2 separate regions of the Homo sapiens genome follow, and region 1 is linked to region 2. Evidence: fine-mapped expression QTL. A gene starts in region 2. The other region holds a variant in brackets. All regions are shown on one strand. Distances are from middle to middle.

The links. PIP is the estimated chance that this variant, and not a neighbour inherited with it, causes the effect. A credible set is the group of variants that fine-mapping cannot tell apart.
Region 1: its variant is the best candidate, but not a certain one, in a credible set for the expression of POLR2I in whole blood (TOPMed, PIP 0.66).

What each region holds. Positions count from the first base shown.
Region 1 is chr19:36,084,605-36,088,940 of GRCh38, reverse strand. WDR62 (WD repeat domain 62) reads right to left here. Exons shown (of 32, transcript NM_001083961.2): 12 at 4,197-4,288; 13 at 2,129-2,254. Among named protein-coding and RNA genes, the nearest start is that of OVOL3, 24 kb to the left of the region's middle. The variant C/T (reference allele first, on the strand shown) is at 2,101.
Region 2 is chr19:36,112,387-36,116,767 of GRCh38, reverse strand. It overlaps POLR2I (RNA polymerase II subunit I), which reads left to right and starts at 1,893. Exons shown (of 6, transcript NM_006233.5): 1 at 1,893-1,970; 2 at 2,055-2,109; 3 at 2,356-2,429; 4 at 2,517-2,591; 5 at 2,702-2,753; 6 at 2,951-3,059. The coding sequence starts at 1,912. The coding sequence ends at 3,013. It overlaps OVOL3 (ovo like zinc finger 3), which reads right to left. Exons shown (of 4, transcript NM_001302757.2): 3 at 3,804-4,008; 4 at 3,057-3,315. The coding sequence ends at 3,107. It overlaps TBCB (tubulin folding cofactor B), which reads right to left and starts at 1,300. Exons shown (of 6, transcript NM_001281.3): 1 at 1,094-1,300; 2 at 584-727. The coding sequence starts at 1,207. RefSeq lists enhancers at 570-659, 2,250-2,379, 2,398-2,909 and a silencer at 970-1,059.

The DNA.
Region 1 (4,336 bases), 28 kb after region 2:
GCTGGGATCAAGGCTTCCTAAAGGTGGTGAGGTGGGTGCTGGGTCTGGGTGGGACTCTGTAAGGTATGAGCTGTACGTGTGAGGGGGCACAGGTGGAGCTGTGGCCAAGGCAGGCTCTGCAGAGCAAGGGCATATAGAGAAACAAAGGCTGGGGACAAAGAAGGGACACCCTCTCCAGTCTGGGATTGAGATAGGTGACTTGAGTAGCGGAGTAGAGGCAGGACTGCAGCAGCGACCAGTGGAGACAGGCTGGGAGGCTCGTGCCATCAGGATCAACTGCAAGATCCACATGAGCCTTGGGCCAGGCCCCATGCATGTAGCGGGTCTTCCTGAATGCTCACCACCCATCCCACTGGACAAGCATGAACACAGAGGTTCACAGAGTCCTTGTCCCAAGGCACACAGAGAGGACAGGGGCAGGACTGAACCCAGGCATTCTCTGGTGCCAAGGTCAAAGCTGTTAAACACTGCTCTGAACCTGGGCCTCCCCTTTGAGCCTCAACTTCCGGTCCGTACAATGGGCATGGTGACAGTTCCTTCTCTGGAGAGTGATGTGAAGCCCTTGGAACAGGGACTGCCACATGGTAAGCATTAGAAACATTCTTGCTTTTATTATTCTCATTTCTTTTTTTTTGAGACAGAGTTTCGCTCTTGTTGCCCAGGCTGGAGTGCAATGGCGTGAGATGCCCCCGGCCGTCTCATTTCTTTACAGAATAACAGTTTGGTGAGGATGAAATGACAGAACAAATATAAAACTCTGAGTCTGGGCACATCACACATGCTCCTTCATGACAGGACATTTGAGAGGGTCCAGGCCTGACATACAAGTATTAGATGTTGCTCAAGGAGGAGTCATTGGCTCACAGAAGGGAGTGAGCCCCATATAAGGGAGGAAGGGTAACCTGGGAGGGACCCAGAGAAGGCCTGCAAGCCTCTGGTAATGTTCTGCTTCTTAACCTGCACGTGGTGAATCCAAGTACCGTATTTAACAATATTACGACCATGAGCAATTAGAACAGTCTCTGCTATCAACAACGTCCTAGTTCAAACCTTGCTCCTAAGAACTGTGGATACTCACTTCGGCCACCACGCCCAGCTTATTTTTTATTTTTATTTTTTTTGAGATGGAGTTTTGCTCTTGTTACCCAGACTGGAGTGCAGTGAAACAATTTTGGCTCACTGCAACCTTGGCCTCCTGGATTCAAGCTATTCTCCTGCCTCAGCCTCCCAAGTAGCTGGGATTACAGGTGTGCACCACCATGCCCGGTTACTTTTTTTGAATTTTTAGTAGAGACGGGGTTTCACTATGTTGGCCAGGCTGGTCTTAAACTCCTAGCTTCAGGTGATCTGCCTGCCTCAGCCTCCCAAAGTGCTGGGATGACAAGCATGAGCCACCACGCCCGGCCTATATTCTTCTTTTTTTTTTTTTTGAGACAAAGTCTCGCATTGTCACCCAAGCTGGAGTGGAGTCACTGGCGCAATCTTGGCTCACTGCAACCTCCGCCTCCCGGGTTCACACAATTCTCCTGCCTCAGCCTCCCGAGTAGCTGGGATTACAGGTGCACACCACCATGCCTGGCTAATTTTTTTGTATTTTTAGTAGAGATGGGGTTTCACTATGTTGGCCAGACTGGTCTCGAACTCCTGACCTCATGATCTACCTGCCTTGGCCTCCCAAAGTGCTGAGATTACAGGTGTGAGCCATGGTACCTGGCCATTATTCTTTTTTTTTTGAGACAGGGTCTCACTCTGTTGCCTAGGCTGGAGTGCAGCCTCCACCTCCCAGGTTCAAGCAATTCTCCCACCTCGGCCTCCTGAGTAGCTGGGATTACAGAAACAACACCCCGCCCAGCAAATTTTTGTATTTTTAGTAGAGACGGGGTTTCACCATGTTGTCTAGGAAGGTCCCGAACTCCTGACCTCAGGTGATCCACCCTCCTTGGCCTCCCAAAGTGTTGGGATTACAGGTGTGAGCCATTACACCCGGCCCCAGTCATTATTCTGTATACTGTACACAGATACTGTATTCACTTGTTTGGATATATATTTTACAGGAGAGTTGAAAGAATGAATCCTTTTTTAGCAGGGTAGCTAGCAAGG[C/T]GCAGGGAGCGGGAAGAAAGGGGCTCACCAGCGAACTTGATGGCGGTGATGGAGGAGGAGTGGTCATCCAGCGTCTGCTCCAGGTTGTAGTTCTTCTCCACGTTCAGCACATGGATCAGCCGGTCCCGACTGGCTGAGGCCAGCAAGGTCAGCCCTGTGAGAGGAGAGAATGAGACTGGTTCCTGAAGGCTGCGTGGGTGCCCTGGCCTCCCAGAAGGGCAGTGTGACCAAGCTGCCCAGTCCTCGGAGAAGGGGTCTTTGGTTCTTCAACTGTAGCCAACTTGGCCCAAGCCTGGCAAGGGCCACTCCCTTAGCTCTGTGTGGTCTTTCCCAGAGCCCCCACACCCTGGCATTTCACCTCCTCACCACCAGCTCAGGGAGGATGAGTCTCGATGGGCGCATGGACGCTCCTCCAGGGACATCCACAGCAGACGCCCCAGCAGAGCCCAGCGCTCTTGCCTGCTGGGTCTGTGCTGGGTAAAGCCCTGGCAACCTCTCAGCCTCTTCCAAAACCAGTGTCCTCTCACCCTCTGAGGTCTGGCTACCTGGGCCTTGTTCAGGTCCTATTGACTGCCTGTGGCCAGACTCCCATCTGCCACCAGCCTTCCCTACTCTGGTCACTTGCTATGTCTGAGGCCTAATAACATGACCTGAGGCAGAGGGGAGATCAGGAGAGGCGAACCGAGTGAAGATATGTTTCAAGACAAGTTGGTGGGGCACACAGCATGGGGGATGAGAGAACGAAAGAAGAACATGGGGAAAATCACATCAGGATATAACTCCACCAACTCTGTAACTCCCAAAGTGCTGGGATTACAGGCATGAGCCACCGTGCCCAGCCTAGAAAACATCTTGAGGAGCCGGGCATGGTGGTTCACGCTTGTAATCCCAGCATTTTGGGAGGCCAAGGCGGGTGGATCACCTGACGTCAGGAGTTTGAGACCAGCATCGTGCAATACCTTCTATGCTAAAAATAAACAAGAAAAAGGACACAAAATGCTACCATATATCATCCATATATCATCTGGGTGACAGAGCAAGACTCTGTCTTGAAACAAACGAAATCTTCACTTGGAAATCTTCTCCTATCTCATGATCTCATCTGATGGCCCAGAAGGAATTTTCTGTTGTTTTAATGAAGAGGACCATGAGGTCTGGAGACCCTACTATGGTCCTAGCCTTCAGCCTAGGCTAACATGGTGAAACCCCGTCTGTACTAAAAATACAAAAATTAGCCGGGTGTGGTGGGGGCGTGCCTGTAATCCCAGCTACTCTCGAGAGGCTGAGGCAGGAGAATCGCTTGAACGCAGGGGAATCGCTTCAACCTGGGAGGCGGAAGTTGCAGTGAACTGAGATCGCGTCATTGCCCTCCGGCCAGGGCGACAGAGTGAGACTCTTGTCTCAAAAAAAAAAAAAAAAAAAAAAAGGTCAGGTGTGGTGGCTCATGCCCTAATCCCAGCGCTTTGGGAGGCCAAGGCGGGCGGATCACCTGAGGTCAGGAGTTTGAGACCAACCTGGCCAACATGGTGAAACCCCATCTCTACTAAAAATACAAAAATTGGCCAGGCATGGCAGCAGGCACCTGTAATCCCAGCTACATGGGAGACTGAGGCACGAGAATCACTTGAACCAGAGAGGTGGAGGCTGCAGTCAGCAGAGATGGTGCCACTCCCCTCTAGCCTGGGTGACAGCAAGACTCCATCTCAAAAAAAAAATTGAGGAATTTGGGTGAAGCCTATGGGGTGTTCATTATAATATTCTCCCAATATTTCTATAGGCTTCAAACTTTTTGAAAATAATGCCTAACAATCAATCTATCTTCTCATTCACAATTCACTCATTCATACATCCACCCCTTTGGCTTGGGTGCTGGCACCAGCAGCGGGCAAGTCAAGCTGAGTCCTGCCTGCGGGTGTCTTGCTTTCTGAAGTCCCAGCCACTCTGGTCTCAGGGTCCAGCTACAGGGGCCCTTACCGAACACAAAACTCCCAGCTGTCATCCACAGTCCCACCAGACACCAACTACCCCTTTCTGTGGCCCTGCCAGGGGGGCTGCCTCCCTGCCTGACCCCCATTCCACCCCTGCTGCGGGCTCACCCGTCTCTGGCTTGGAGTACTCCAGGCACAGCACCTCAGCATCATGGGCCTCCACCTTGACCAGCTCGTCCATGAAGTGCAGCTCGTGGATCCTGGGAGACACACACCGCCCGCTGAAGCCCCACACCCCAGCCCCATGT
Region 2 (4,381 bases):
AATCCCAGCTACTCGGGAGGCTGGGGCACAAGGATCACTTGAACCCAGGAGGTGAAGGCTGCAGTGAGCCCGATAGTGCCACTGCACTCCATTCCAGGTTGGGTGACAGAGTGAGACTCTGTCTCAAAAAAAGACAGAAAGGATGTACTGAGTGGATGCACAAAGAGATCCTGTGTTCTGGTTTCTCCCAAGCTGTCCAGCCTGGTCGCTCACTGTGACCTACCTCACATTCTAGGCCTCTGTACACCCTGCTCCCTCCTTTCCACCTCTTTCTCTTAAGTCACCCTTTCCTCATCCCTCAGCTCAGACATCCCTTCCTCCAGGAAGCCCTCTCTGATTCTCCCAGGTGGAGTCAGGCACCTCTTCTTGGTGGCTCCAGTCCCCTGGGATTTCCTGATCCCAGCCCAGACCACTCTAGGCTGTCCCTGTCTAATGATGGGTCTGTCTCTCGTCAGGCTGCACTGGAGGCTCCACGAAGGCAGGACCTATCTCGGGTATGACTGAGGGCAAAGCCCAGCAAGTGTCTGTTGAATAACCAAATGAAAGGTGGGGTGGGGGAGTGTCCCAGATAGAGAGTCCTCACGTGGATGCGGCAGCCGTCATCTACAGGGTAGGAGCCCAGGAGCGCATCCTCTTGATCCAGCTTGCTGTAGAACTTGTCGTCAACTCCATACAGCTCCAGTTCCATGCAGGAAGCAGGGCTGCCCACCAGCAACTCCAGTTTACACTGTGAGGAGGAGGCAGGGTGAGAAGAAGGAGGCCACGGAGGCCCCGCCCCTTGCATCAATGACCATCGCCACGTCCCTTTTCCTCCAAAAGACCCCCCAGTCAGGACGCACGGGGCCGCAATCCAGCCCCTCGCCTCTTGCCCCCGCCCTCTGGACCGTCGGATTTTTCGCTGGACCCGGCCCTCATCTCTGCACTCTCGAGTTCTCTCCGGACCCGCCCCGCCGCGACCGGGTCCCCAGCCTCCGCAGCCTGGGATCACCTCCGGGCCCGCCCAGTCACTCCCCGGCCCCTCCCAGCCTCCCCCTTCCGGGAACCCCCCAATTTCTTCGCCCCGCCCCTCCGGACCCCGCCCCCATGGCCACACCTTGAACTCAGCGATGGTGAGGCTGCGGCTGTATCGCTTCTCGGAGCGGAAGGTGTTGAGGGAGCTGCTGATGAAAACGGTCACCGTGGGTGCCGACACCCCCGTCACCTCCATCTTGCCGCGCCCTGCGGATGCCTGCAGCGCGGTCCAGCCGCCTCACACCCGCTCCGCAGCCGCCGCCGCCGCTGCTGCTGCTGGGCTATCAGCCCCGCCTCCTGCTCCGTGCCTGACCAATCCGCGCTCTCCTGCCAGGAGCGTCCGCCAATCGCCGCCGTCCCTTCCCCACCGCCAGGAAGAGGGCTCTCCTTACTCTTGGGCCAGCCCAGCCAATCCAGAGGGGCCTTCCATAGTTCACGGTTCTTCCAATAGCGGCCCGGGAAAGGACCAGAACAGGCGGCGAAGACTGAAGCCCGGAGGTAGGAGTGGCAAGAGCTCGCCCAGTCCGCGAAGGGTAAACTCGCGCATGCGCACTGGCCTTCAACCAAGCCAAGCGCCTTGGCTTCTGTCCTGGATGCTCAGTGTTTTGCGGTTTACGATGCGCATCGTTTTCCCGGCTCTGGCACCAGATCCATACTATTCTGTAAACTGAGGCGGCGATGCCCAAAAATTGGAAGCAATTACTCTAAGATATCAAAAGATTGAAGCAAGCCATGAAACCTCTGCGCGGAGAGAGCCGAGCCCGAGGCGGCGGGGAGCCAGCACGTGTGCGCAGCTCCGCCCTCTTTTGGCGAAGCACCTAGGCCTGGCCCCTCCCGCGACCTGTAGCGCGGCGGAGCAAGCGCGGAAGGCTGGGAGGGCTGCGCGGGCTGCGCGTCGCCATGGAGCCCGACGGGACTTACGAGCCGGGCTTCGTGGGTATTCGCTTCTGCCAGGAATGGTGAGGCGGAGGGAGCGGGTGATGTTAGAAGGCGGGCGAGGAATGGCTCCAGAACTAACCCCTGGCACCTCCCCCTCCCCACAGTAACAACATGCTGTACCCCAAGGAAGACAAGGAGAACCGCATTCTGCTCTACGCGGTGAGCGCCGGGGTCTTCCCCGGCAGGTCCACCTGTTCCCAGCGTGGCCCCGCCCTGCCCCCTGCCTCTGTGATCGGACTCCCTGTTCGCCCTCCGCTGCACCTCAAGTGATCCTGACTCTCATGTCCTGCCCATCCCCAAAGAGAGTCCTGTCGTCATATCCTCCGGGATCACCCTGCCCTCTCCTCCCAATCTTGTCTGGAATCCTTCCGTGACCCCCTTTCCCCCACACTCGCCCTCTCGTAGTGCCGGAACTGTGATTACCAGCAGGAGGCCGACAACAGCTGCATCTATGTCAACAAGATCACGCACGAAGTGGAGTGAGTGGCGGGCCCTGAGCTGGGGGCGGGGGTGTTGGCTCTGGAGGCTGGGTCTGAGCGTAATTTTGCACCCCCGCGTCCCTGCAGCGAACTGACCCAGATTATCGCCGACGTGTCCCAGGACCCCACGTTGCCGCGGACCGAGGACCACCCGTGCCAAAAGTGAGCGTTCAGCTGGTACTGGGGAGGTAAAGTGAGGCTCGTCTCCTCACTGGGCGAAGGGAGGAGGGAAGGGTGTGAAGCCTCCGGTGACCGAGCCCCTACCCTCTCAGGTGCGGCCACAAGGAGGCTGTGTTCTTCCAGTCACACAGTGCGCGGGCCGAGGTAAGTGGCGCGAGGGCTTTCTAAGTATCTGGGGCTTGTTTGGTCCTTTCTGGGGGCGGGGATATCAATGTGGGTGACCCTGCGCTTCTTGGAACTCTGCCGGGCCCTTACCTATTGGTGAAGTTCTCTTGCCTGTTCTTTTGGGGTAAGGCGCTGCTGGGTCCAAATCCTTCCTAACCATGCATCATTTCTGCCAGGACGCCATGCGCCTTTACTACGTGTGCACAGCCCCACACTGCGGCCACCGCTGGACCGAGTGACCTCCTCTCTCCCCCGAGTGTAATAAACACCAGATTCCATGCGTGAGTTTTCTGTGTTTATTTGCCTCGTGGGGAGGACGCTGGCACACCGTATCAGGCTGCGCGGTGCAGGGCGCGGTGCTGTGCGTAGGTGTCGGGCCGGGAGCTGGTGAAGCCGCAGTCCTCGCACACGTGCAGCTTCTCGCGGCGCTCACGGTAAGCGTAGCTGGCCGGCTGTCCATGCACCTTAGCAAGGTGAGCTTCCAGGGAGCAGCGCTGCGTAAACGCTTTCCCGCAAGCACTGCAGCGGAAGGGCCGGATCCCTGCACAGATGGGCGCAGAGGGGAGGGCTGGACAGAGAGGGCAATGGGCTCTGGACTAAAGCGCCCCCACCCTGCTTTCCAGTGTTGAGCATTTCTGGTACCTATTCCAAGCTCTTCAGACTCTTCCGCCCATGACCCACCATCTGCTACCGTCACCCAGTGCAGACATGGGCCAGACACCTGTGTCTCCACTCTCCCTCACCAGGATGCTCCCTCCCCTGGGGGATGGAGAGGGAGGCCTTCCCTTGCCTTTCGATCTGGAGCCTGAATCGTATAACCGGCATCCGTCTGCACTCTGCATTCCGTGACAGGCCCCTATTTTGGTGCCACCTTACACCCACCCACTGGGGTCCGAGAGACATCATGTCTTGATTCTCCATACCCCACATACACAAACCATGGACACTCCACAGCCCAGCACCTCTCTCCATTTCCTTCCATCCCCACCTGGGGCCCAGCAACTTTTCCCTGTCCCTGCCACTGCTCACCAGTGTGAGTCCTCATGTGGCGCTTGAGATCGAAGGCGTCATGAAAGCCCTTGCCACAACAGCGGCACAGGTGGCGGCGCACGGGGCTGTGGCACTTGAGGTGCCTTGTCAGCATGCGCTGCAGAGGGAAGGCCTTAGGGCAGAGCGGGCAGCCCAGCGTCCCAGGGCCCCTGGGAGCAGAGGTCAGGTTGCCCTGTGTGGGCTGCTGGAGGGATGCAGGAGTTATTAGCCTCTCTGGCTGGACCCCATCCACCCTTTGTTACTCTGCAAATGAGTATTTACAGAGTGTCCTGAGCCACCACGGAGGATTAGGAAGGCAGGTGGGAGACAGTGATTAGTGTGTGTGCCTGTCACTCTCCAGGGCCTTCCCTCACTATCCCATGGTCCTTACTTTCTCTATGCCAAGTCCCATCTTCTGATGTGACATACACATTTTTTTTTTTTAAAGACAGAGTCTTGCTCTGTCGCCCAGGCAGGAGTGAAGTGGTATGATGTCAGGTCACTGCAACCTCCGCCTCCCGGGTTCAAGCGATTCTAGTGCCTCAGCCTCCCCACGATTACACGATTGTAGGCATGCG